Linked DNA regions of Homo sapiens: all the other regions are linked to region 2. The links come from fine-mapping of genetic effects on gene expression. A gene starts in region 2. Each other region holds a variant in brackets. All regions are shown on one strand. Distances are from middle to middle.

Region 1 (8,181 bases), 150 kb after region 2:
TTGAGACGGAGTCTCGCTTGTTGCCCAGGCTGGAGTACAATGGCACGATCTCAGCTCACTGCAACCTCCACCTCCTGGGTTCAAGTGATTCTCCCCTTCTCCCCGCTCAGCCTCCCGAGTAGCTGGGACTACAGGAGCATGCCACCGCCCCCGGCTAATTTTTTGTATTTTTAGTAGAGATGGGGTTTCACCATGTTGACCAGGCTGGTCTTTAACTCCTGACCTCAAGTGATCCGCCTGCCTCGGCCTCCCAAATTGTTGGGATTACAGGCATGAGCCACTGCACCCGGCCAAATGTTCCACATTCCTATGAATCTATTGTACCTTCTAAGAGATTCCCTACAAAATATATTTAAAAGTTCTTTCTTTTAAAAGAAACTTTGTAATTTAAAAAATAATTCTATTCAAAGGCAGAGAAAGAACCAACAATGTACTCTAGTATTGAAATTCAGTTTCCTTGGAGTCCTTATCACAGAATGAGAAACCTCAGGCCTTAAGATGGTTTTTAGCTGTTCTATCCCCCGCTCCCATAGCAGAGCAGTGACTCAGGTATAAATACCTGAAATCATTTAATGCCCTGAAGGGCAAAGTAACCAGAATTTTGTCAGCCCCACAGCACGGAGGGCAAGGCTTGAAAGCAAATCTGCACCACATCCTCTTCACAGAGGTAGGGAGATTTTAAAAGACAAACAAACAAACAAACCCAGCCCTTCCTTATATTCTGCAACACTAAAGGCCAGCTCCACAAAGGCCACAGTGAAGAAATGGATGGACAAACAAATCCAAAAGCCTGAGCCAAGAAGGGACAATAGCTTCACATCCTGTTTGCAGGAGGAAATGGAAGCTGGAAGCAGCAGTTCCCTACGGACCCCTTTGGGCTTTACGTCTATGTTTTCTTCTTTGCAAACACAGCCAGGTCTCCCGTGGATTCTAGAGCTCCCTCCTGCCTTCCACTCCCAGTTGTTTTTCTAACAACCCAAGACTCAGTCAAACTTGAGAGCAGCCAGTGTGCTCTGTGGCCAGCTCCTGATGGCTTTAGGAAGGATGTGAGGAGGGCAGGGGAGCTTGTGAGCCACTTTCATCGCTCTCAGATATTAGATCCCATTTCCAAGGCCAAGGACGTGACTGATTCTGTGTTGCTTCTCTGAGCCTGCAAATTATTTGGCTTTTCTTCCTTAATAGCTCATGAAGGCAAATGACAATTACAGCACTACTTGTAATAGCCAATAACAAAACAACTGGAAACAACCTATCCAGAAGATCAGAAATGGTTTAAAATGCAAAGGCTGGCTGCGGTGGCTTATGCCTGTAATCCCAGCACTTTGGGAGACCGAGGTGGGCGGATCACCTTAAGTTGGGAGTTTGAGACCAGCCTGACCAACATGGAGAAACCCTGTCTCTACTAAAAATACCAAATTAGCAGGGCATGGTGACGCATGCCTGTAATCCCAGCTTGGGAGGCTGAGGCAGGAGAATCGCTTGAACTTGGGAGGTGGAGGTTGTGGTGAGCTGAGATCACGCCATTGCACTCCAGCCTGGGCAACAAGAGTGAAACTCTGTTTAAAATAGAAAGAAAAAAAGAAATGGTTTAAAATATTCCGGCGCATCTACAAAAGACAAAGTCCTGCAGGTGCTATTATCTAATGACCTAGTTCTTCATGCTGAAACTTCTCTGCCATAATGCTAAGGGAAGAAAGCAAACTGCAGAGCACCATGATCCCATTTTGGGTTTAAAAATAGGCAAAAAAAAAAAAAAAAAAAAAACTTTACCAGAACTATGTTTGGATCCTGACTGGAAGAAACCACTTGTAAAATGCCATTTTTTAAGACAAGGGAAACTTGAATATTAACTGGGTAATAATATATAAAACCAAGGATTTTGTTTGTAAAAAATGTGTTTTAGGACAGGTTTTTGTTAAATGTGACAAGATATTGTGATTATGTAAGAAAATGTCCACATTTTTAAAAGATGCACAGTGAAGAATGTAGGGGTGCACTTACATGATTTTGGGATTTGTTTTAAAATAATTCAGAAAAGAGGAAAAAAGAAAAAAGGGGCTGGATAAAATAAGTATTGAAGATAATAAGTGTATGCAGGTTGATTTTACTATTCTCTCTTCTTTTGTATATGTTTACATTTTTCTTTTTTTGCCATCTCACCAATTTAATAAAAAGCAGAAAATTCAATCAATCATCAGTCAATCTTTTCATTTCCAAAAGGATCAAATAACCTATGGGGCATTAATAGGATCTATTCTTTTAATGTCTTCAAGGAACAACCAGAACGTTTTAAGCAATTTTCAGTATGATGATACAAATAATTGAAACAATTATCTTTCAAGTTTCCTGTCTAACTGGGTATTTCAAACAAAAATGCTAATATTGCTGAAGTGAGTTGATACATGCTCTGAAATCCCCACATCACTTGACACCTCTGGGAAATTTAAGTGGCCTTCATATTTCAAGCTCATTAATACCAGTGGAAATCATACCTGCAATAAGAGAGATGAACTTTCAGCACATAGGAAGCTGCCTTTCCATCACTGATGAACAGGGTGTAACAGAAAGGTGACTCCAGGCTGTATGTGAGTCGTAATTCCTGTCATGTAGTTTTGTTACACTCAGCCAGTCATATACTTTTATTTTCACCTCTTTTGGGCAACAATAGGAATTTGTGAAATGGTTTTTGTGGAGTCAAGAGTAAGTCTGTGGTTGGCATTATGAATCTCTGATGCCATGGCCAGAATCTCTGCCTACCTACTTTCTCTATCTAAATCAGGACACATCTATTATTGTATCACTGGAAAAAACTGAGACAGATCATAGAGCTGAACATAATCCAAGATACACATAAAGCTATGAGTAAAGTTAATGTACAAAGTGTATATGGAGTGTACAATCTGTGTACAGTGGTAGAAAGTGACCCACAAATTTGGCTAGGACCTAGAGAATAGCAAAAGCAAAGAGACAAATACAATCAGTGACAAGTCAGTGCACATGACTAGTTTGAAACAAAATATTCATAAGAAACAGTTTTCCTGGTGTATTACTTGTTTTCACGCTGCTATAAAAGATACCTGGGACTGAAGGCCAGGTGTGGTGGCTCACGCCTGTAATCCCAGCACTTTGGGAGGCCAAGGCGGGCAGATCACCTGAGGTCAGGAGTTCGAGACCAGCCTGGCCAACATGGTGAAACCCTATCTCCGCTACAATACAAAAAAAAATTAGCCGGGAATGGTGGCGCATGCCTGTAATCCCAGCTACCCAGGAGGCTGAGGCAGGGGAATCGCTTGAACCCAGGAGGTGGAGGTTGCAGTGAGCCGAGATCGTGCTACTACACTCCAGCCTGGGCGACAGAGTGAGACTCCATCTCAAAAAACAAACAAACAAACAAAAAACAAACAAAAACAAAACCCCAAGACTGGGTAATTTATGAAGAAAAGAGGTTTAATTGGCTCACCGTTCTGCAGGTTACACAGGAAGCATAGCGTCTTTGGCTTCTGGTGAGGCCCCAGAAAGCTTCCAAATATGGCGGAAGGCAAAGGGGTAGTGAGGCTTCTCATGAGGCGTCTCACGTGGCGGGAGGAGGAGCGAGAGAGCAGAGTGGGAGGGTGCTGCATACTTTTAAACAAACAGGTCCCATGAGAACTCACAATCACGAGAACAGTACCAAGGAGGACGGTGCTAAACCATTCATTAGAAATCTACCCACTGTGATCCAATCACCTCCCACCAGGCCTCACCTCCAATGCTGGGTATCACAATTCGACAGATTTAGGCTGCGACACAGATCTCAACCATATCATCTGGTATTAAATCCAGAGAGATATTTGTGCTGTGGGTCTTTATAACATTGAAAAATGTATGACAGGGAATAACGTTCTCAAAGCCATGCTGGCAGTAAAGTACAATAAGTAGCTAGTTTCCTAGGACTCTTTTTTATGACATACTTCAATGTAGGCTGATAGAATTATGTCAAAGGGGCTGGGCCTAGTGGCTCACACCGGTAATCCCAGCATTTTGGGAGACTGAGGCGGGCATCTCTACTAAAAATACAAAAAATTAGCCGGGTGTGGTGGCGCGTGCCTGTAATGCCAGCTACTGGGGAGGCTGAGGTGGGAGAATCGCTGGAACCTAGGAGGTGGAGGTTGCAGTGAGGCAAGATCATGCCACTGCACTCCAGCCTGGATGACAGAGCAAGACTGTCTCAAAAAAAAATTTTTTTCAAATTATATCAAAGGGTAATTTCATTAAAGTAATTCTACAAAAAAACAAAATATATTGAAATTGTTCATACAATATCTTGACTATGCAAGAGGAAAGTGCAGGGGAGAACCCGCCATAAAAGCAGATGGTTGGCTCCTACCACCAGCTCTACCAATACCACAGATGCCACTTTCCTCCCCGTGGCTGCTCCCTCGCCTTTCCTGCACAGTGGGAGGATGAAGTCAGTGGTTCCCCAGTCCAGTTAGCACAGGAACTACCCAGAGGGGTCAGAAGGGAGCCAACTGGGGTGAGAGAGTATCTGAGTTTCCTCTAAACACTGCTCAACTCAGCTCCCTCAGGGGTGGAAGCTGCTCTCATAAATAAAAAGTCCATCTTTGGTTGGCAAGGCCCCTATGTAGCTTGGAAACCAGAGCCCCAG[C/G]AGGTGGATGCCCTCCGACACTTAGTGCTGACTTGGAAGGAATTGCAGAGATGACAAAAATGTGATTCCATCACTCACTGCTGCCCTTGTGTGGTGAAGGAAGCATCCCTTTTCTTTTTGTCACATCACGCAAGATGGATGCTGTTCACATGTGAGAATTACTCCCAGGGGAGTTCCTGCCAGCTGTAACTCATCTTCTCCCACTCAAGAACGCATTAGGTTTTGCAAGCCCAAAGTTATGCAAGGCAGGGGCTCATTGTGAATCCATGGTAATTTATAAAATTACTAAGTCACTGCGAAGCCTCAATGTTTTATTAGTAACACATTATTTGTAACATAGTTCTCAACAAATTAAGTCACCACATTGTCTTCCAGACTGAGGTTAAAGCTCTCAGACATCTGTGCCTACCACCTAGACTACACTACCCTCTCAAGTTCCTAAGGGACTCTCTAACCAGCTCCTAAGGGACTGGGAGAAAACTGCAACTGCATTTCAGCACATTTATTTGAGTAAGGAAGCAGTTTGGTACTTCCTTTTGGTGTGAGAGGCCACAGGGCATAGTGGTTAGGAACAAGGCTGTGGATCAAACAGCGGCCCCAGGCCCAGCCCCTCTTCTCTGTTCCTTTATTAGCTAAGTGGCCCTGGGTAAGCCATATAATCTTTCAAACAATGGGATTAAGATTAGTACAATTACTGTTAACTCACAGAAATAATAGAGAAAGAAATGCAAAGTGCCTGGCTCACACCAAGTATTTGGTAACTACTAGTTACTTCCATTCATGTCACCTGTCACCTCCACCCTGTGGCAAGCTCCTTGAGGAGCTTTGTCTTGTTTTGTTTCCTTATGCTTAGCACAGTGCTTGGCACAGGATTGTTCTCAGTGTAGGTTGCTGAATGGATGAATGCTTCCACCTACTCATCCATCCACGTAACATGTATTGAGCAGCTAAGTGCCAGGTGCTGTTCCCTTTACTGCAGACGGAGCAGTGAACAAAACAGCAAGGTTCTGGTCTCTTGTTAACTATGTTCTAATGCGGGAGAACAGACAAGTGTGTACTGGGAAAGAGGGAGAGAAATAGAGTAACTAGAGCAGAACTGAGGGGGCCAGGAAGGCTGAGGCGGTGGGGTGGGGGGCTTGCTCTTTTATATATCACAGAAGGTCTCCCTGAGGAGGTAACATTTGAGCAGAGGCTTAAAGGAAGTCAGAGAGCAAACCACAGGAATATTGGCAGAAGGCATGCTTCAGGCCCAGGGAACAGCATGTGCAAAGGCCCAGAAGCAGGCACACGGACGGCATTTTTGAAGAAAAGAAGGCAGGTGTAGCTGGAATGATATGAGTGAAAGGCATATCTCTTTTTCTATTCTGGTCAAAATGAGCACACAACACAATTCAGAAATTGAAAAAGATGTATTAAAATATTCACAAAAATACAACTGAAGATCAAAAAATAATAATGAGCTTGATGGTTTTTCCCTAGCTGATATATTTCCATTGAAAAACTAGAGATAGTTTGAAATTTCAATCTCTAAGTAATGCCTTTTGAGTGCTCCCATACAGAATTAGCGCATAATTTTAAGACGACCCTGTTTGCCAGGACGAAGACATGGAGAGGGCAGATCTGCCCTTTAGGCAACCTTAGTTCGTTATCTGCAACCAGGAAAGGAGTGCTGAGGCACAGGGAAAAGGGGAGCCAAAAGGGCTGCAGGGGTGGGTGTGCAGGGCTTGGGAAGAGGTCCTGCCCTGAGAGGCTCATCTCAGTGTGAGCAGCTTCCTTCAGGGAAACCTGTCCTGGCAGAGCACCATGCTGGCAGCTGCCCTTGCCTGGGGGGAAGGTTGGTGAGAACTGGTGAGGATTCTCTGCCAGAATGCCAGGGCACTGACAGAGTTTGAGGTGTCTGGTTGGGCAGGAGGCCAAGAAGTCGGGCTGGGGAAGGGAGTGGTAAGGGAGGAACAGGCCTCCAGGTGTCATTCGAGTGAGTGGCCCCCACAGCACCAGCTTCACCAACACATGGTCCCGGCACCGCAAGAAGAAGTGAAGGCTCTTGCTCTCAGGGAGCTCCGAAATGTTTCATTTATTCACAGGAACTGTTGAGAAAGCAGTGAAAAAACAATGCCCCTTTTCTCTGTAAAAAACGACTGTAAGGAAACATGACACAGGCCTGTCTACAATGTGTGTCCTCTGTACCTCAAGCACAGCCCTGGTCAGCTATGTGGTTTTCATGGTGGCAAAGGCTCACCAGGAGTCTCAGCTTGAAGGATGGTGACAATCTCAACACCCTTCCCCTCCAAACATAAGAGGCCTTCCAAAGGCTCCTATAGTTTTCAAAATAGATGCCCAAAAAGTTTTAGGATGCAAGGCAGAGTTGACCACTTTGTGGAAATGTCTCAGGGCCAGCACTGTGTGTCACTCTCTTGGGCTGGGCCTATGAACATGGAAGGCAGCAGGGCAGGCGTTTTTTTCTCCATTCCACACAGAACACAGAGCAGACGCTGCCCAGCTTCAGACATGTGTGGTGACCAAACCTGATCCCTGTTGACTCACACAGATGTGGCATGTAAGGTGGAGCGTTACAAGAATAACAAAAATAGCTCCTCAAAAAACAAAAGGCTTCATGTATGCAACAGCATTAGTTTTGAAGCTCATATGCCCTTTATCTTACCACCTTGTGCACACCTCAAAATCTCAATCCTGTTTTATTCCCTTTGTGAATTCTGTTGGAACTCAGCCTTCAAACATCCCCAGAAGATGACAAGATGAGAAGAAAAAGCAGCAGCTCATAATGGACTCCAAACTACAGGGAGAAAAAGTAACATTGCCCCTCACTCCCACTCACCCCAAACACGTTCTGCAGACCATCTAGACAGTAATTCTTTCCATAACTGTGGGCTTTCGAACAATTTTAAAAGGGGGGAAATTTAAAAAAAAATTCAGAAAATGGGAGAAATGACAACATAAGTGTTGAATGATCTTCACCACACTTTCCATTCCCAGTAAAAAGTAAAAACTCATAGATTTTAAGTGCGGTGGGGAGTAGTGAATAGGAGAAAACAAGTTTTAGGGAAGGACAGCCAAACTGTCTAATCTAGGCTCTCATTAACCTCAACAGTCTTTGAGGCACCATGAAGCTGTTATAAAGCCATGACTGATGCTGCCTCTTGCTGGAAGCATGACTGACGCTTTATAAAGAAGGTGATTCTTGCCAGCTGCAGTGGTGCAACTATAGTTCGTTCCAGCTACTCGGGAGGCTGAGGAGGGAGAATCACTTGAGCCCAAGAGTTCAAGGCTAGTCTGGGCAACATAGTGAGACTCTACCTCAAAAAAAAAAAAAAAAGCGAAAGAAGGTGATTCTCTAGAGAGCGAGCTCTGGGAGATTGGAGAGCGGCAACATAATGATACCATTTCTGCCTACTTAGAAGGAAAGAAACTCCTCTCCTTTAGCTGTATGGTGACTGTTATTTCAAGCAGAAAGGACATCAGCAAAGAATAAAACCGATACTTTTTACTCTCCACGTTACAAAAGTTCTCAAGCAAAG
Region 2 (8,181 bases):
CTCTTGAACCCAGCAGGCAGAGGTTGCGGTAAGCCAAGATCATGCCATTGCACTCCAGCCTGGGCGACAAGAGCGAAACTCCGTCTCAAAAACAAAAAAAGAGAAATGCAAATTAAAACAATGATATATTTCTACACGCCTACCATGAAGGCTACAATTAGGAAGACTCACTACACCAAATGCTGATGAGAATGTGGAGCAATTGGAACTCTCATATACTGCTGGTGGGAATGCAGTATGGTAGAATTACTTTGGAAGACAGTCTGGAAGTTTTTTATAAAGTTAAACATACTTACCATACAAGTCAGCAATCCCACAATAGATATCTATTTAAAAGTGTTCGACCCTAGTTATTTTGTCCAAGATGTACATGAAGTTTCACTATTTACATTTTCCCTGTGGAGCCATCAGCAGTGTTTAAAAAAAAATTTTTTTAATCTCCTTCAAGTACTTGGGGAAGCCTGCCCACCTTAAACCTGAAGCAACATTAAATTACAAGAACTACACACCATCTAGAACAATTTTCCAAACCTCAAGCTGAGACTCATTAGTGCGTACTCTACCAGTTCAACACCAACAGTTGTAACAATATGAAAAAAAACAGAATGCATCCCATCTAGTAAGGTTTATATATACACCTAGAGAATCCTTTATTTTCGTTGTGTATATCACAGGTTGCCACATAAATGTACTTTTATCATGGATCATTTTTAAAACATTTTAAAAACACTGACCTAAAGCATACTTGTAACATAAGCTCCATGCTACCAGAAGCTTCTAAACCTTCTAAGCACTTATAACTTGATTCATCCTATTTTAGGAAGCAATGAAACCCACAGTAGAGCTATCATAGTGTCTATGGTTGTTATGATTACTTATATGCCTTTGGTGTCCTGCCTTAAGGAATTATCAGTATATCTTACGTTTGTCACAATTGACCGTCATTTTTCAATACTAAAATCATACATTTTTCAGCTTTCACTGAAATTTCAAGACTAAAGAAACAAAATACAAATATTTCACTAACTTTTCCCCAATGGCTAAAAAAAGAGGCAAAAGTCAGAAGTTACTAATCTTCATATAATAAATACACTGTAACTTGGCAACATATTATGAAGAACCTGGTAATCTAGAATGCAGATGTATTCAAGATGCACTAAAGAGTAATCGACACGCAAAATTATCCATTTCAGTACATACTGACTCTAATGATATTCAAAGGACACTGACTTCATAAACTCCTTACAAAAAGATGAGATTCAATCTCCACTAAAAAATTGTCACTGGCTGCCTAATCATAATTTACACATTTTATACATTATAATAAATAACTCCCTTGAGAAGTACCTTAAAATTACTTTTTTATCAATTACTATCTTTTAATTTAGAAGGGTTAGAAAGTTGTAGGAGTGTCTGTCCAAAAGGAAAGAAATATGAGTAGAAACAAGCAATGTATTGAAATAAGTTTATTTTATTAACAATGTTTATCTTTACAAAACCGTATATATATGGGATAATAAAATCTGTGTGGCTAATAAATCACTGATTTCCAAAAGCACTACTCTACACCTAGTATACAGTAATTTGAGAAACTATTACATTTAAACATTTAAACCTACAGGTATCTCTGACTTTGATAATTATTCTTTAAAAAAAAAAAAAATTCCAGGAGGCTGAGGTGGGAGGATGGCCTTGAGCCCAGGACGTGGAGGCTGCAGTGAGCCATGAGGGTGCCACTGCACACCAGCCTGGGAGACAGAGCAAAACCCTGCCTCACCCTGCCCCCCGCCTCCCACCAAAAAAAAGAATCCTACATTGAAATTTAGATAGGGCTCACAAAGATTAAAATCCCTGGCCTATCCTCTAAATCCATGCTAGTCTAAAACAACACTCTGTTGGCCCAGGTGAATCTTGTGGATTTGGGAGCTCTAAGTAAACATATCTTTTAATCATAAATAACATCTGGGAAATTATTCATCTTCATTCCCACAACATAATAGGAAGTTTTCTGAAGTATAATTTTCTTTGATGGGAAGAAAGGAGATAATTAATCAGTTTAAGTAAAATCAATTACAAAGCTTGAATATTAACATTGAAAGGGCACATGCTATGGTGAAATAACTGGAAATGTAAAGGCTACAAGAAAAATTTATCTATTTGTTCTATCCCAATTTTACTATTTAGCAGTAATTCACTGCTAAAAAATCTGTAGAAATACAAATAATGAAAATGTATCAGAAAAATACTTAAATCTACAACCCTGTAGATAGACAATCGTAATGTTTAAATATTGAAGTCTTTTAAAAAAGGAATCTATTTCCTTAGGAAAATCCTAACTTGGAATTTGACTTTTAAAAGGAAGGCTTTATAAGTGTACCATACTTTATTTATTTATTTATTTATTTATGACGCAGAGTTTCCCTCTGTCGCCCAGGCTGGAGTGCAGTGGCACAATCTTGGCTCACTGCAACCTCCACTTCCCAAGTTCAAGCTATTCTCCTGCCTCAGCCTCCCAAGGAGCTGAGACTACAGGCGTACGCCACCACTCCCGGCTAATTTTTGTATTTTTAGTAAAGACCAGGGTTTCACCATGTTGGCCAGGCCGGTCTCAAACTCCTGACCTCAAGTGATCACCCACCTTGGCCTCCCAAAGTGCTGGGATTCCAGGCGTAAGCCACCGCGCCCGGCCAAGAGTACTGTACTTTAAAAAGTCATTTTATCTAATAATAAAAATAAAATTAATAATAATGATAAAGTCATTTTATCGCCACACACAAAAAAAGATGGTAATTATGTGACATGATGGATATGTTAATTAACTTGATTGTATATGAAGTTATCAAGTCCTACACCTTAAATATAACAATTTTTAATTGTCAATTATACCCCAATAAAACTGGGAGGGAAAGTCATTTTTTAAAAAAAACCATCACTAATTCAAACATTACCAATGTGGATTTTGCTGCTTCCTGAATGCAAAGCCAGGATTAGCACTGTAGTATAGAAGAGCTGAATAACAGTGTAAAGGTCTACTAAGGGTAAAGGCCAATAAATTAGTTCTTTGCAAACATTTTCAAGTTTCGATACTTTCAAAAAGTATTTTCAAGTACTTAGAAAACCACTTTTAAAGGAAGTCATTCCAAAAATGTCCTATTTTAAGAGTATATATTATCATATCTAAAATATTATTTAAGATAAAGAACTCCCTGTATGTATACATACACATTTGAAAAACTGTAATTCAGGCTTTCTAATATAGTCAGTGAACCCTTCAATTCCCCTAGACCCAATACACAAATTCCATTTCCATTAGGGAGTTGGAGTAGGAGGGGGAAAAGCAGGTATATGGTTTTGTTATATTTTAATTAACTCGTTTGTAGATATAGCTGAAGTAACTGAACCAAAAGAAAACACTAAAATATAGAACTATATACAAGTACTTAAACTGTCCAACTGAGATAAAGGACCAAATTATAAATGTATCCATGCAAAACAATGTTAACGTTTGTTTTATTAAGCTAAAATTAAGTTCTTTCTCCGCAAATAAATTCTAAAAGAAATACTGCACACTTTTTTTGGTAAATAGTTTTAAAAACCAGACTCCAGCTATGTTCAATTTTAAAATGATTAATCACCACTCTAGGTACTTATCCTACAACAAATGCACAGAAGCTTGTAGAATGATGTTCATTAAAATGCTGTAAGGGCGAACGTCTACTTAAAGAAGAAAGGTTGAGTACCCTATGGTACTTCATAATGTTACCTACTATGTAATAATTTAAAAGACAGAATCAATCTATTTTTACTGCCATGGAAAGATCTCCAAAATGTGGAGAAGTGAAAACAATGTTTACAATATGACACCATGCACTCAGGTGTCTCTCTCATACACACACAAACACACACACACCCCAGCATTTGTACATGTACATATGTACTTGTAAGAATGCAAACAAAAAGGTCTGGAAGAATATTCAGAAAACAGAAAATATTATTTCTAAGGGTGGCGGAGTGAAATTGAATGGGAGGGATCAAAGGGATTTTTGCTTCATTTTTATTGAGTTTTTATAAACAAAATGTATTCGTATTTTACTTGAGACACTAAAAAGAATTAAAAAATTGCATGCTAACTTTTCTTAAATAATTTACAAACCAGAACTGTTGGTTGTAATGAGATTTCATTTTCTTCTCTTTACTTGAAATCAAAAACAAATGAGAGCAACAAACACTTTTTAACTAGCAAGTGGCAAAACTGGAAAGAAAAAAATTTTATGATGTTGTTTGCCGTATCTCCAAATAGAAAGAAAGAGTAATGAAGAGTATACAGGAAGAAACAAAAAAGACCTTTACTAAGTACGTCCATTTTTAAGAAACCAAACTTTTTAGTTGACTCGGGCGTGACCTAGAATCCTCAAAAAAAAAATGTTATGCAAAACGAAAAAAGTGGAATACTGTTCCCCCAAGTACTGAAGGTTGTTTTTAGAAAGCTTAACTACGAAACTGTAAATGCCAAGTGTGTTTTCCAGGGGTGGGAAGAGGAACGTGAAACCCTACACCACCTTTAAGCGGTCAAAACGAACTGAAGAGCAGAGTGGAACTGGGAGAGCGCGCGGGGGTGGGGAGAGCTCAGCTATCACTTTTAGGTTTTGGCTCAGCGCCGCAAAAACAGTTTACACGGATTCTGTCTGGAGCGTGAAGTCCCTGAGGGTGGTCAACGCGTCGCAGCCGACACCTAAACCCTCTGGAGATTGAAGGAGAGGGTGGGCAACAACTTAGGTTCTTCGGCTGAGCGGGGAAAGCGCGCTGGAAAAGAGCAAAAGAGCTAACTTTTGCTCTAAACGCGGCAGCTCCTGGAGGTTCCGCAAGTCTCCCGAGTCCCAACCCATCAGCGACCCCAACACCTTTACAAGCCAGTACCTTCTGCCCACGGCCCGGCCCTCCGAGAAAAACCCAGCAAGGGCGGCGGCTGGCAGCATGCACAGGGGGCTTGACTGGGGGAGGCACCGGCACGGAATTCGGCAACCAAGGCCCCACCCAACACCCCAGAGTCTCCGGGCGCCCCCACCGAGACGCCGTCCCACCTCCAACAGACCCGGCAGCGTGCCCCCTCCCCCACTCTAGGCGGCGACCTCAGCGCCTCCGCCCCGGGGCCCCCGCTCACCCAGGTAGCGACTCCGCAGCCGGGACGGGTCCTCCAGCCCGAGGGACCTTTTCCTCACGTCCCACAACAGGTGTGGGTAGGAGCCACCCCGAGACATGGCTCTGCCTGAGCCGGGTGGGAGGGGAGACCACCGCGTGGGGGAGGGGAGGAGGGGGAGGGGACACCCGTTTCAACACCCGAGCCGCACCGGCACCATCCGCGCGCCGGGCCTCCAGGGCGCAGCGTTAGATGGCGGTGGCAGCAGCGGCGCCTGGGCCCCTGAAGCCCGGCCGCACCCGGGCCGGAGCTCGCCTCATACTCTCCTTCTTAGACTAACCAGAACATCCAAAGATCAGCAACAGTCTCCTCCCTCAGCCCCCCTCCAACAGGAGGAGGCGGAGGCGGAGGCGATGGCGACTCCTCCCTCTCCTCGTCCTGGATACCCTCCCCGCCAACCCTTTCTCGCGAGATGACGACCACCCTGGGGACTGAGGCTGGTGTGTGCTGCGGCTGCCCTCACCCTGGAAGAATGCATTCGGGCCACTCTAACCAGATCCTTAAGTCGCTAGGGATAAAAGACGAGTAGAGAGAGAAGCTACTCAATTCTGTAGTCTCTCGCTCACGAGTCTCCAGTGAAAAGAAGCAAGAGAATTGTGCGGCATCATCTTTAGGCACTGAAGGCCCAAAAACCCATTTTAACTACGGGCCTGCTTAATCAAAGTGAAAGGGCAGTAGAACCAGCGCAGCTTCACTTTCCCTTCTCCAACATGGCCTCGAGGGCATGGGGAGAAGGAGGAGGTTTCCGCTCGACCCCGCCCGCGCCTCGGGGCGGGCCAATCATGGCGGGCAGCTCGGCCTGCGCAAGCGCGCTGCCAGCAGGGCGCAGCGCAGACTTGGTGAGGTGATTATTTTGGCACCTGTTGCCATGGCTCCTCCCTCTCTCCTGCCGGGGGCCGGAGGCGGACCGGGGGCTGGCAGTCGGCAGCCTCCGCCCCCTCAACCTTCGCGGGGCGCGGGCCGCAGCTTTTCGGTTCACAGCGGGCAGGGAAAGCCGCGGGAAGGGTACTCCAGGCGAGAGGCGGACGCGAGTCGTCGTGGCAGGAAAAGTGACTAGCTCCCCTTCGTTGTCAGCCAGGGACGAGAACACAGCCACGCTCCCACCCGGCTGCCAACGATCCCTCGGCGGCGATGTCGGCCGCCGGTGCCCGAGGCCTGCGGGCCACCTACCACCGGCTCCTCGATAAAGTGGAGCTGATGCTGCCCGAGAAATTGAGGCCGTTGTACAACCATCCAGCAGGTAATGGACCCTGAATGGCTCCTTATCGAGACCTTCCTTCTCGCTTCCTCTAAAATGGACCTTTTAGAGGCCCTCTGACAACTGCCTCTAGAGGCATCCACAGCCCCAATCCCTTCCCTTCAAGTGAAGCCGTCTACTCTCCTAGCCTGTGCATTTCACCCTCTCTCCTGCAACATCTCTTCCTAAGCCAACGTATCTCAAGTCAGCTCCCTTCCCCACCTATGTGACATCCGCTCCCTTACGCACGACTCCAACCCAAACCTGATCTCCAGATTTGAGCCTTCTCAACTTCTGCGGCCACCAAACTGTCTGGGGCCACCATGAAACACTCATTCTCTTTCTCTTTTCGAATTGTGGCATATTAACCCACTCTAGGCAGAGCTGGATGGGTGGTTTGTCGCACTGTAGGGTTTGGAGTAAAGGTCACTTTCTTCAGCTGCTGCTGGCAGAGGCCTGCAGACTGAGCCCTCCCCCAAACTGCATGCTTTACTTCATCCAGGCTTGAGTCAGTGTCATTTCTCATCCCATAGGTCCAGTGTGTTTTTTTAAGTCTATCCTTATTTATGAAATTGTTGAACAAGCTCTACCCAGAGCTTTTTGTGTGGACAGACCTGGATATCATTCTCTTCTACCACTTATAGTTGTGACCTTGAGCAAAAGCCTAGATCTCTGTTTGTGTAATACGCGGTCTATGAGAATGACAGATAACATATGTGCTTGACTCTTTGTAAATGCTCAGTAAACGTTACATCTCTCTTTGCCTACTGGAAAACTGTGTTCTTGTGGTTGAAAAAAAAAACTGTAAGAAACTGAAAGATTCCAATCCCTTTATTAAAGATCTAGAATTCTGTTACCTCTTCTATAAAGTGAGTTGTAATAATACTTATTTGCTAGGGGCTAACATCAGATATATTCTGAGGTCTGTTTCAAGCCTAAGACTTGGCAAACTAGAAAATGTGTTGTAAATTGAAAGACTGAAGTGCTACCCGAAAAGTGGCTTTTATTCTCCTACATAGTTAAAATCTGTATTCTGTAGTTGGTATCATTAGGAAAGTTGTCTAGTTCCCCCATTATCTGATTATGAACCAGCTCTCTGGAGTCTGAACTGGTTACTAAATCTGATTTCCAGTTTGATAATGGAATGAATTGAACATCTGGATTATACTCTAACCCTTAATATTATTTACTGCAACATTGAACCCATTATAAAACTGATCATTAAGGACAGTTTGTTACTGATTTAAAAAGTTTTTGTTTATTTGCCTTTTAGTTCTTTTAACATTCAATTTTTTTGGAATTATGCTGTGTTTTGTGGCAAAGATTTTCGGGAAGGAGGGTTGAGCTATGCTTTTTGTAATAATCTGGGCTTTACAGAGTCAACTGAATGTGAAGTCAACCCTGACCTTCATAAGCTTTGTGTTTTAGCTGTAGGATAAGGGCATGACAGAGTAAGAGTAATTTTAAACTACTTAAAATAATACAAAATTGGAGGGTAGTCTTACCTTGATCCTTTCCAAGCCTTTAGTTTTTAGCCACCTGTAATTACTGCTTAAAATACTACTCAGCTTTCAGAATGAAGAGGGATTACCTTTCACTTGCAGGATGTGCATTTCACCTGAAAATCCTTGGATTCGTTCAGTTATTTTAACCCCCTTTTTCAGTGTAGTAAAAGGAGCTAGGCTTTGAAGGGAAATAGACCTACGTTTCAGTCTTGGCTGTGTGACCTTGACCCTAAATTCCTGCC
Region 3 (8,181 bases), 74 kb after region 2:
GGCTTCTTATGCCATTGATCTCTTATTACAGTTTCTCCACAAACGTAACATGAGGTGACATTTAGAGACTGGGCTACATGCTCGGCTAATTGCAAAAACAAATTTCTGGTTTTTCCTGGAGTCTCTGGTACTGGCACATTTAGTTAATCATAGAAAGTCTGAAATACTGGTTCCGGAGAGAGTTTACGAACCTCCTCTTTTACTAAGGTATTTACTCTAGGATCTAGTCCTTTTTTATCGACGCCCAGAGATACGTGTACTTCTTTTTTTCTACCTTGGGTTTAAGGGATTTGTAATTACTAATTTCAAGGGGTTGCAGCTTCCACTCGTACAGGAGGGGCTGCCTTCTCCTTTTTGGAGCTAAACAGGGTCTTTTTCATCCTTTTTCTAAGTAGCCTAGATGACACAAGACCAGTAATTACACACATTTGCACATGAGCTTAATTCGTGGCAGATATACTTATTTCCTGCTGTGTAACTTTTTTTTTTTTCAGTTTAAAGAACCGCATCTTATTCTATGCCGATTGCTATTGATAGTGGCACAAGCATTAAATTTTAGTGTTACATGCTTGGGGATCCCTCTTTCTTCTGTCTTAGCTATTACTTTACTTGTGTCACCTAGAAAAGGACCAGTCCTTAATTTATTTTAAAAAACTGTGATCATTGGAGGCTTAAAATGGGTCATAACACACATCAGGTTGGTTATTTCCTAGGCTACATACCTTGGATAGAATAGCATTATACAAACAAGTTTCTTTTAGAGTCCTCGTACACTTATAATAACCATGAAATAATAGGACTGTAGCAATCTTTTGTCCTACCTCAGTGACTTGATGTATATACTGGGAACAGTTCTCAGTCTGAGGAAGGTCAGTTGAAGTCCTTACTGTACAAGTCCAAATTTTAAGGAAAATGAGTCCCGTGATGAGTTTTCTCATGCTTCGGCCGTGCGTGGACCAGTCAGCTTCCGGGTGTGACTGGAGCAGGGCTTTTTCTGAGTCACTTTGCAGAGGTTGGTGAAGCTGCTCCCATCCACGTACAGCTCCCAGTTTACTGATGTTTAAGGATGGTTTTGGAGGTTGGGCCCACTAGAATAAACTGAGTCCAACACTTCTACACAGTTATGTTTAACTGGGCTCTCTGATACCAGGAGCAAGGTGGCGGGGTTTAGGGTGTTGCAAACTTCAATGGTTATGTGGGGATTTTCACAGAGCAAGCTTTGGTATCTAGTTAGTCTAGCATTCATTAGCTAATGATGTCCTTTGGTACTGATTAAAGTCACCACAGCATGGGGGGGACTTTATGTTTAGGTTTTGCCTAAGAGTTAGCTTATCTGCTTCTTGTGCTAACAGGGCCGTTGCTGCCAGGGCCCTTAGATATGGGGGCCAGCCTTTGGAAACCCCATCTAGTTGTTTTGAGAGATAGGCCACTGGCCTTGGCCAGAGCCCTACAGTCTGGGTTAAAACTCCAACTGCCATTTTTTTTTTTTGAAGATAACCATTCTTTTTTTTTTTTTTTTAAGTGAACTTTCTTTATATCTGTGGACTAGACTGTCTAAGGCCACAAGATTAGAAGTTACTATAATACATGTTACACTGTTAACTTTTAGCAAACTTTACTTTTGTTGAAAACCTTGTAAGTTTGGGATTTCAATTATCCTTTGCTATGAGTAAGACCTTGTTTAGTCTAAATTAACTTAGAATTGGTATAGATGGCCCTTTTTTTTTTTTTTTTTTTTTGGCACATAGAGTGTGCACTTTCGTCAGGTCAGGTAGCCCCAGGGCTGGGGCCGACCTGAGTTTTTCTTTCAACTCATGAAAAGCTTGTTGCTGTTGTTTGTAATAGATATAATTTATCTAATTTACATTTTTATTAACATCACTCACTAAAATATTGACTTAAATTTTGTAGCTATTTGATTTCAAGCTTTAAATTGATCTGGTATTCCTCGTGGGACTCCAATTGCGTCTAAATGGACGTGAGAGTCGAAAGACCTATAAGGGGGCTTCTCTCGCTTTACGATGTCTTATTTTTCCTCCCTCTTGTTGATGAAATGCCAGGGTGAAAGGGATAGCCAACTGGACTAAAGTATAAGTGCCACTCCAGTTATTCGGCAGAGTGCCCAGTAAAGGTCCACCACAATACCACCACACATCCGCTTGGGGATGAACAAGGGCTGACTGATTGATAAGCTCTTGAAAATTCTTAAGCTCATTGCATCACTTCAGGTCTCCAAGGAATCCTAAGTTTCCTCTCTGTGGTGAGAGACATGAAGTGAACTTAGTGTTGGGAGACGGAGGCTGGATGGCCCTCGGGGGCTGACCCACAGGGATAGCAGAGAGAGTTTGGCATGACTTATTACTCCAGGCTGTAGAATCCTGGAAAAGAGCTACCATGCAGCCCACGCCTGGTGGACTGGAGGACCACTTTAGTGGAAGGGGGACAATGAGGGCCTCTGGCCTGCCATGTGCACAAGCATAACAACTGCTTTTGTTTAATGTGCAGATGGAATATTTGATCCATTTCAACCAGGCATTTGCATCTTGGTATGCTGTCTTAATTGCCAAAGTTTGTTTTAAGTCTTTAACTTCTATGATCCTCTAGTAAAATGAATGTTTCCTTTAGGACCTATTTTTATTAGTTTTTAGACCAAAGAAAGCTAAACACCATTTTATATTTAATAATACTTCTTGTATGATTTTTATACCAGATAAGCTAAATTTTACCTTTATATTAGTGTGTTATTAATGTTAAACTTAATTTTAATAAAACCTCATAGACATATTTATCCAATTTTTCATGTTTGACCATAAGGTAAGTTTTTACAGACTCTTTTTAACCTTTTATAATTTTTGTTAAAGAGCAGGTTGGTGCTTCAAGAAAAACCTGTTGCATTTTTACTTTAATGTCCAGTTCACAGAAAAACTGGATGATACCTTTTTATCTTTAGCTAATTAGTTTACACACAGAATTTTTTTTTACAATTAACATTTTAAAACTTGCTTAAACTTTCAAAACAATAATTTTTTTAACCTTTTAATGTAGGTAAAAATCCACATTCTTATGCCTCCTTCTAATCTTTTTACCAAAAGTATATTTTACTTTTCTTATGCACCTTGCACATAAACTGTTTCTTCAATAGTACTCAGGAGGCCTTATTACTTTCAAATTATACAATATTTTTTGCATAAATTTTTTATAACATCGTTTTCTATGACTTTCGCAGATAATTCTTTGACATGTCTCAACTTTCTGACTTATTACAAATATTTCTTTCTTTAAACAACAGTTAATTTATTTCAAGACAAGAATTTACCATATAACACTCTTTTTACATAAATTTTGCCTTCCCACAGCTCTTTTTTTTTTTTTTTCCTGTTAGCAAAGCAGCTGCTGCTACAGATTGAATGCATCTGGGCCATCCGTGGGTTACTGGGTTAAGGATTTTTGATAGGAAGGCCTCAGTGCTTTCGGGATACGCCCTT[G/A]TTTACACTAACAACAAAGTGGTATTAGAGTGTTACAGGGTTACGGAGAATACCTTTAATTATCAATTTTAGGTTTTAAATTTACCTTGGCTTTTAAAGGGAATAGGGTACACTATTTTTTTCTTAACTACTTGGATATTTCTCTCTATTTTTCTTTCTCTCTTTGACTTTCTGTCTCTCTCTCTCCCTCTCTCTCTCTTTGACTTTCCTTTTGCCTCTGTTTCTTCCTCTCTTTCTGCCTCTCTTAACTACTGTGGGGGCGAAGGGGGTCTAAAACCAGCTGTAATTGTCTACGTACAGAAACTGGTCTGTGTGCCTTGGCTTACAGGTTACCTTGTGCCATACATTTGAAACAAGGGACCTGTCTAGGCTTCCTTCTGATGGCCAACCCACCTCTAATGTTGGCCAGTCTATTTTACACAAAGTTCTAAGTTTTTCTAGTGTCATAGTAACACCGTAATCTCCCTTAAATCCTTTCTTGAAATTTTTCAACATAGTTTCTAGTAGGGTGGGCTTATTTGTGCCTGACCCATGTTTCTTCGAGACAAAACACCACTCTCACACCACATGCACACCACAAAACAAAGAACGGGTAAAAAGGGCACGCACACACTTTTGCAGTTTACACTAAACCAAAATCAAAACCAAAATCAGAGTATTCAGAAATCCAAGCCAGGTCAAAACCAAAACCAAAGTATCAAGCAATCTAAGTCAAGTCAAAAACAAAAACCAAAGTGCCGGAACAGGCACACCGTGGGTGATCAGATCAGGCCATGCTTCCACTCAAATGGAGTGGGAATGGAGTGGGCAAGTTCCCAAGACCAGTCCTGTCAAGTAATTCAAACCAAGTCAAAACCAAAACCAAGTGCTGATAAAGGCACGCCGTGGGTGATCAGGCCATGCTTCCACTCAAATGGAGTGGGCAAGTTCCAAAGACTAGTCTTACCAAGTTTTAGTTGTCCGGACTCCAAGTGCCAATTCCTTCCCGGTGTTCAGCCACTCTGTTGATCCTCCACGGGGGCCTGCCACACACTGCTCTGGCGAGGTGTCCCACCGGGGCAAATGCCTACCCAGGAGAGCTCTCAGGATCCGCGTCACTCTGGCTGGTTGGAGTCCCCAGCAGGGATGTTCCACAGGGCAGGCTAAAGCCGCCTAAGGAGCTGCCTCGACCATCTGTTAATCACCTTGCTTCCCGGTCAGGGAACCAAGAAATGTAGCAGGATGAGCCGCAGACAAAACCCCTCAGACACCGAGATAGTGAAGGGAGTGGCTTTAATCAGCTGGGAGAATCGGCAGGCTAGCGTCTCAAAATCCGAGCTCGTCTGATGCTCAACTTCTGTCCCTTTTAAGGGCTCACAACTCTAAGGGGGTCCGCATGAGAGGGTCGTGATCGATTGAGTAAGCCAGGGGGTACGTGACAGGGGCTGTGAGCACCGGTGGTCACAGTGAAACAGAACAGAACGAGAGATTTCACAATGTCCTTCCATACAATGCCCTTCCATACAATGTCTGGAATCTATAGATAACAACAGTTGCTAGGTCAGGGGTCGAATTTTAACTACCGAGCTTAGGTCAGGCAGGCCCAGGCCTGGTTTCGGGTCTGGTTCCTAGGCGCCGGGCTATCTGCCTTTAATTTCACTTTTCTTTCCTTTTCTGAGTATAAAACAATATGAGAGGGTCTGTCTCTTCCCTCAACAGGGAATCACTAGTTCAAACCATTTAGTCCTAAGACTGGAGATAGAGAATAAGAGGTCTTTGGATTTTTCCCTGGAAGACAGATCTAATATACTTGTCTCATGTTGTTTATTTATTTTCATATAAGGAATATTATGAGGGCTATCTTTGGGACAATCCATTCTACTTCCTCATGGAAGTAGATAGTATGGTATTCAATAACAGTGGTGATGACCAGGACAATAATGATGGTGACTCATATCCCTTCCCCACCTAACCTAAACAGTGTGAGGGGAAAATGCTTGTTAATCTTATAATATTCTTAGCTGTATCTCTATCCCACATTAAAGTTAGGCCTGAGAAAGGCCAGTTTTAAAATATCTTTATCATTGCTGAAGGGATAATTCACAACAGTCAGAAGACATTTGTTTATTCATGTATTCAATCATTAATTGAATTCCTACTATGTTCAGGAACTACTAAGTGCTGTATTCACTAGCCGGGGCCTCTGTAAAAAAGTACTACAAATGGATGGCTTACAACAGAAATTTGTCTCATAGTTCTCAGGGGTAGGAGTCTGAGATCAAGGCATCTTTTCTTCTCTGGACCATGAGGAAGAATCTGTTTCATGCCCACCTGCTAGCTTCTGGTGGTTGCTGGCCATCTTTGGTGTTCCAAAGATGGCTTGTAGAAGCGTCACCCTAATCTCTGCCTTCATGTCACATGGCATTCTCCCTGTGTGTTGTTTGTGTCCAAATTTCTCCTTTTTATAAGGGCATCAGTTTTATTGGATTAGAGGCCTACCCTACTCTAGCATGATCTCATCTTAACTAATTGTATCTGCAACGACTCTCTTTTCAAATAAGGTCACACTTTGAGGCCCTAGAGGCTAAGAATTTAACATATGAATTGTGGGGACATGTGTCAACAAGTGCCAAAGCCCTGAATATCAATAAAGTCTGCTCTCTGCCCTCAAGGAGCTCTCACAGAAGAGGAGGAGAGAGATAATGTGTTAGTCGTTTTCACGCTGCTATAAAGAACTACCTGAGACTGGGTAATTTATAAAGAAAAGAGGTTTCATTGACTCACAGTTCCACATGGCTAGGGAGGCCTCAGGAAAATTATAATCATGACAGAAGGCAAAGGGGAAGCAAGGCATGTCTTACATGGTGGCAGGAGAGAGCGAGCAAGGGAGGAAGTGCCAAACTTTTAAACCATCAAATCTCATGAGAACTCCCTCACTATCATGAGAACAGCATGGGGGGAACCGCCCTCATGATCCAATCACTTCCCAACAGGTCTCTCCCCTGACACTCGGGGGTTGCAATACGGGATGAGATTTGGGTGAGGACACAGAGCCAAACCATATCAGATAGCATTAAAAGTTGAATATAGTGAGGGCAACGATAGAGTCATGCAATAGAGAATTGTGGAAGTTCAGAGAAGAAAGGGTATGTAGTCAACCTTAGGACATTGATGACAGTTTCCAGGAGGCTACACCTGAGCTGAGACTTGAGATGAACCTCAAATGAGGGGCAATGAGAAGCCATAGCACTCTGGGCTGAGGAGACAGCATAAGCAAAGGCATGGAGAGGAGAAATAGCTCTGGGTGTGCAGGGAACTCTCACCTGCTTGCTGTTGGTGAAGGGTAGATTGCTAGGCAGAGAGTGGCAAGAAAGGATAGAATGAGGCTTTGGAAAGTCTTGTGTGTCACATAAAGGAGGCCTGGGTTCATGCCGTTAGGCAATGGGAGCTCCCAGTCAGAGGGTCATGACCTGGATGGGGGTAGTGGCTTGCTATTGTGGTAGTATAGGGTGGCAGTAGGACTAGAAAGGAGAGAATTAGCTAGGTTAAATTAATCAGGGCTTAGGAACAGGAGAAGAGGGAGTATATCAGAAGCAGCAATAAAGAACCATTGCGAGATAGCTTGGAAAATCTCCATCATTATAGCTGAATATGAGAAGACAGAGCTTTCCTTCAACCTCTATTATTTTCAAAAATATATATTTAAAAACTCTCTTCTGTTTCTTGATTTTCTCACAAACAGGATTATTGCCATTTCATTGAATAAGATCAGCTTCCATCAAACTTTCTATACCATCCAGATGTTCATGGCCAATGTCCTAGGCCTAGACACTTGTAAACATTATAAAGAACGACAGACCAACCTTCGAAATAAAGTCATGACACTGTTGGATGAAAAGTTCTACTGTCTTCTTAATGACATTTTCCATGTTCAGGTAACTAGCTAGTATTATACTTCTGCACAAATAGCCATGGGCAGGCACAGCAACTCCTCTCTGGTGCATTGTGACTTAGCATCTCTTTGGTCTGTATATCTGCAGTATCCAGATGGTGAGTAAATGGCTCCCAATCCTCTCTGGATGTGCATCAACATTCTTGACATATTAGAGGTATCTTGAAATATCATACTCAAGAAAATCCAAATGGCCATCTGCTGACTAATTTTTTTCTTACCTTTCTATCATAGCTATACTAGCTACTCTGGGACACAAAGTCACTCTGTTCCTACAAGTGATGCCAGTGCAGACTGTGCCCTGTCTTTTCCTGAATTATCTAACACAGGGGTCCTCAACCCCTGGTACTAGTTCATGGCCTGTTAGAAACCAGACCACACAGCAGGAGGCAACCAGTGGGTGAGCAAGTGAAGCTTCATCTCTATTTATAGCCACTCCCCATTGCTCACATTACCACCTAAGCTCCTCCTCTTGTCAGATCAGCAGCAGCATTAGATTCTCATAGGAGCCTGAACCCTATTGTGAACTGTGCATGCAAGGGACCTAGGTTGCATGCTCCTTATGAGAATCTAATGCCTGATGATCTGTCACTGGCTTCCATCACCCTCAGATGGGACCATCTAGTTGCAAGGAAACAAGCTCAGGGCTCCCACTGATTCTATCTACATTATGGTGAGTTGTATAATTATTTCATTATATATTACAATGTAATAATAGAAGCAAAGTGCACAATAAATGTAATGCACCTGAATCATCCTAAAATC

Alleles and levels. Positions count from the first base shown, and alleles are read on the strand shown. Sizes are in standard deviations (SD) of each study's normalised expression. Not every link is listed here.
As copies of G replace C in region 1, the expression in fibroblasts of the gene that starts at base 5,098 in region 2 goes up (small effect, 0.37 SD a copy in GTEx).

The links.
Region 1: its variant is fine-mapped to the expression of MPC2 in fibroblasts (GTEx, PIP above 0.99).
Region 3: its variant is fine-mapped to the expression of MPC2 in whole blood (INTERVAL, PIP above 0.99).

What each region holds. Positions count from the first base shown.
Region 1 is chr1:167,788,678-167,796,858 of GRCh38, reverse strand. It overlaps MPZL1 (myelin protein zero like 1), which reads right to left. Exons shown (of 6, transcript NM_003953.6): 6 at 4,940-8,181. Among named protein-coding and RNA genes, the nearest start is that of MPZL1, 71 kb to the right of the region's middle. RefSeq lists a silencer at 4,128-4,276. The variant C/G (reference allele first, on the strand shown) is at 4,646.
Region 2 is chr1:167,933,989-167,942,169 of GRCh38, reverse strand. It overlaps MPC2 (mitochondrial pyruvate carrier 2), which reads left to right and starts at 5,098. Exons shown (of 6, transcript NM_001143674.4): 1 at 5,098-5,231; 2 at 6,272-6,437. The coding sequence starts at 6,329. DCAF6 (DDB1 and CUL4 associated factor 6) reads right to left here and starts at 5,487. Exons shown (of 22, transcript NM_001198956.2): 1 at 5,162-5,487. The coding sequence starts at 5,258. RefSeq lists silencers at 5,082-5,321, 5,352-5,421, 6,022-6,191 and enhancers at 5,602-5,911, 6,362-6,471.
Region 3 is chr1:167,860,089-167,868,269 of GRCh38, reverse strand. ADCY10 (adenylate cyclase 10) reads left to right here. Exons shown (of 33, transcript NM_018417.6): 15 at 7,207-7,399. It also overlaps a transcript of DCAF6 not described here. Among named protein-coding and RNA genes, the nearest start is that of ADCY10, 50 kb to the left of the region's middle. RefSeq lists enhancers at 5,895-6,412, 6,413-6,929. The variant G/A (reference allele first, on the strand shown) is at 3,486.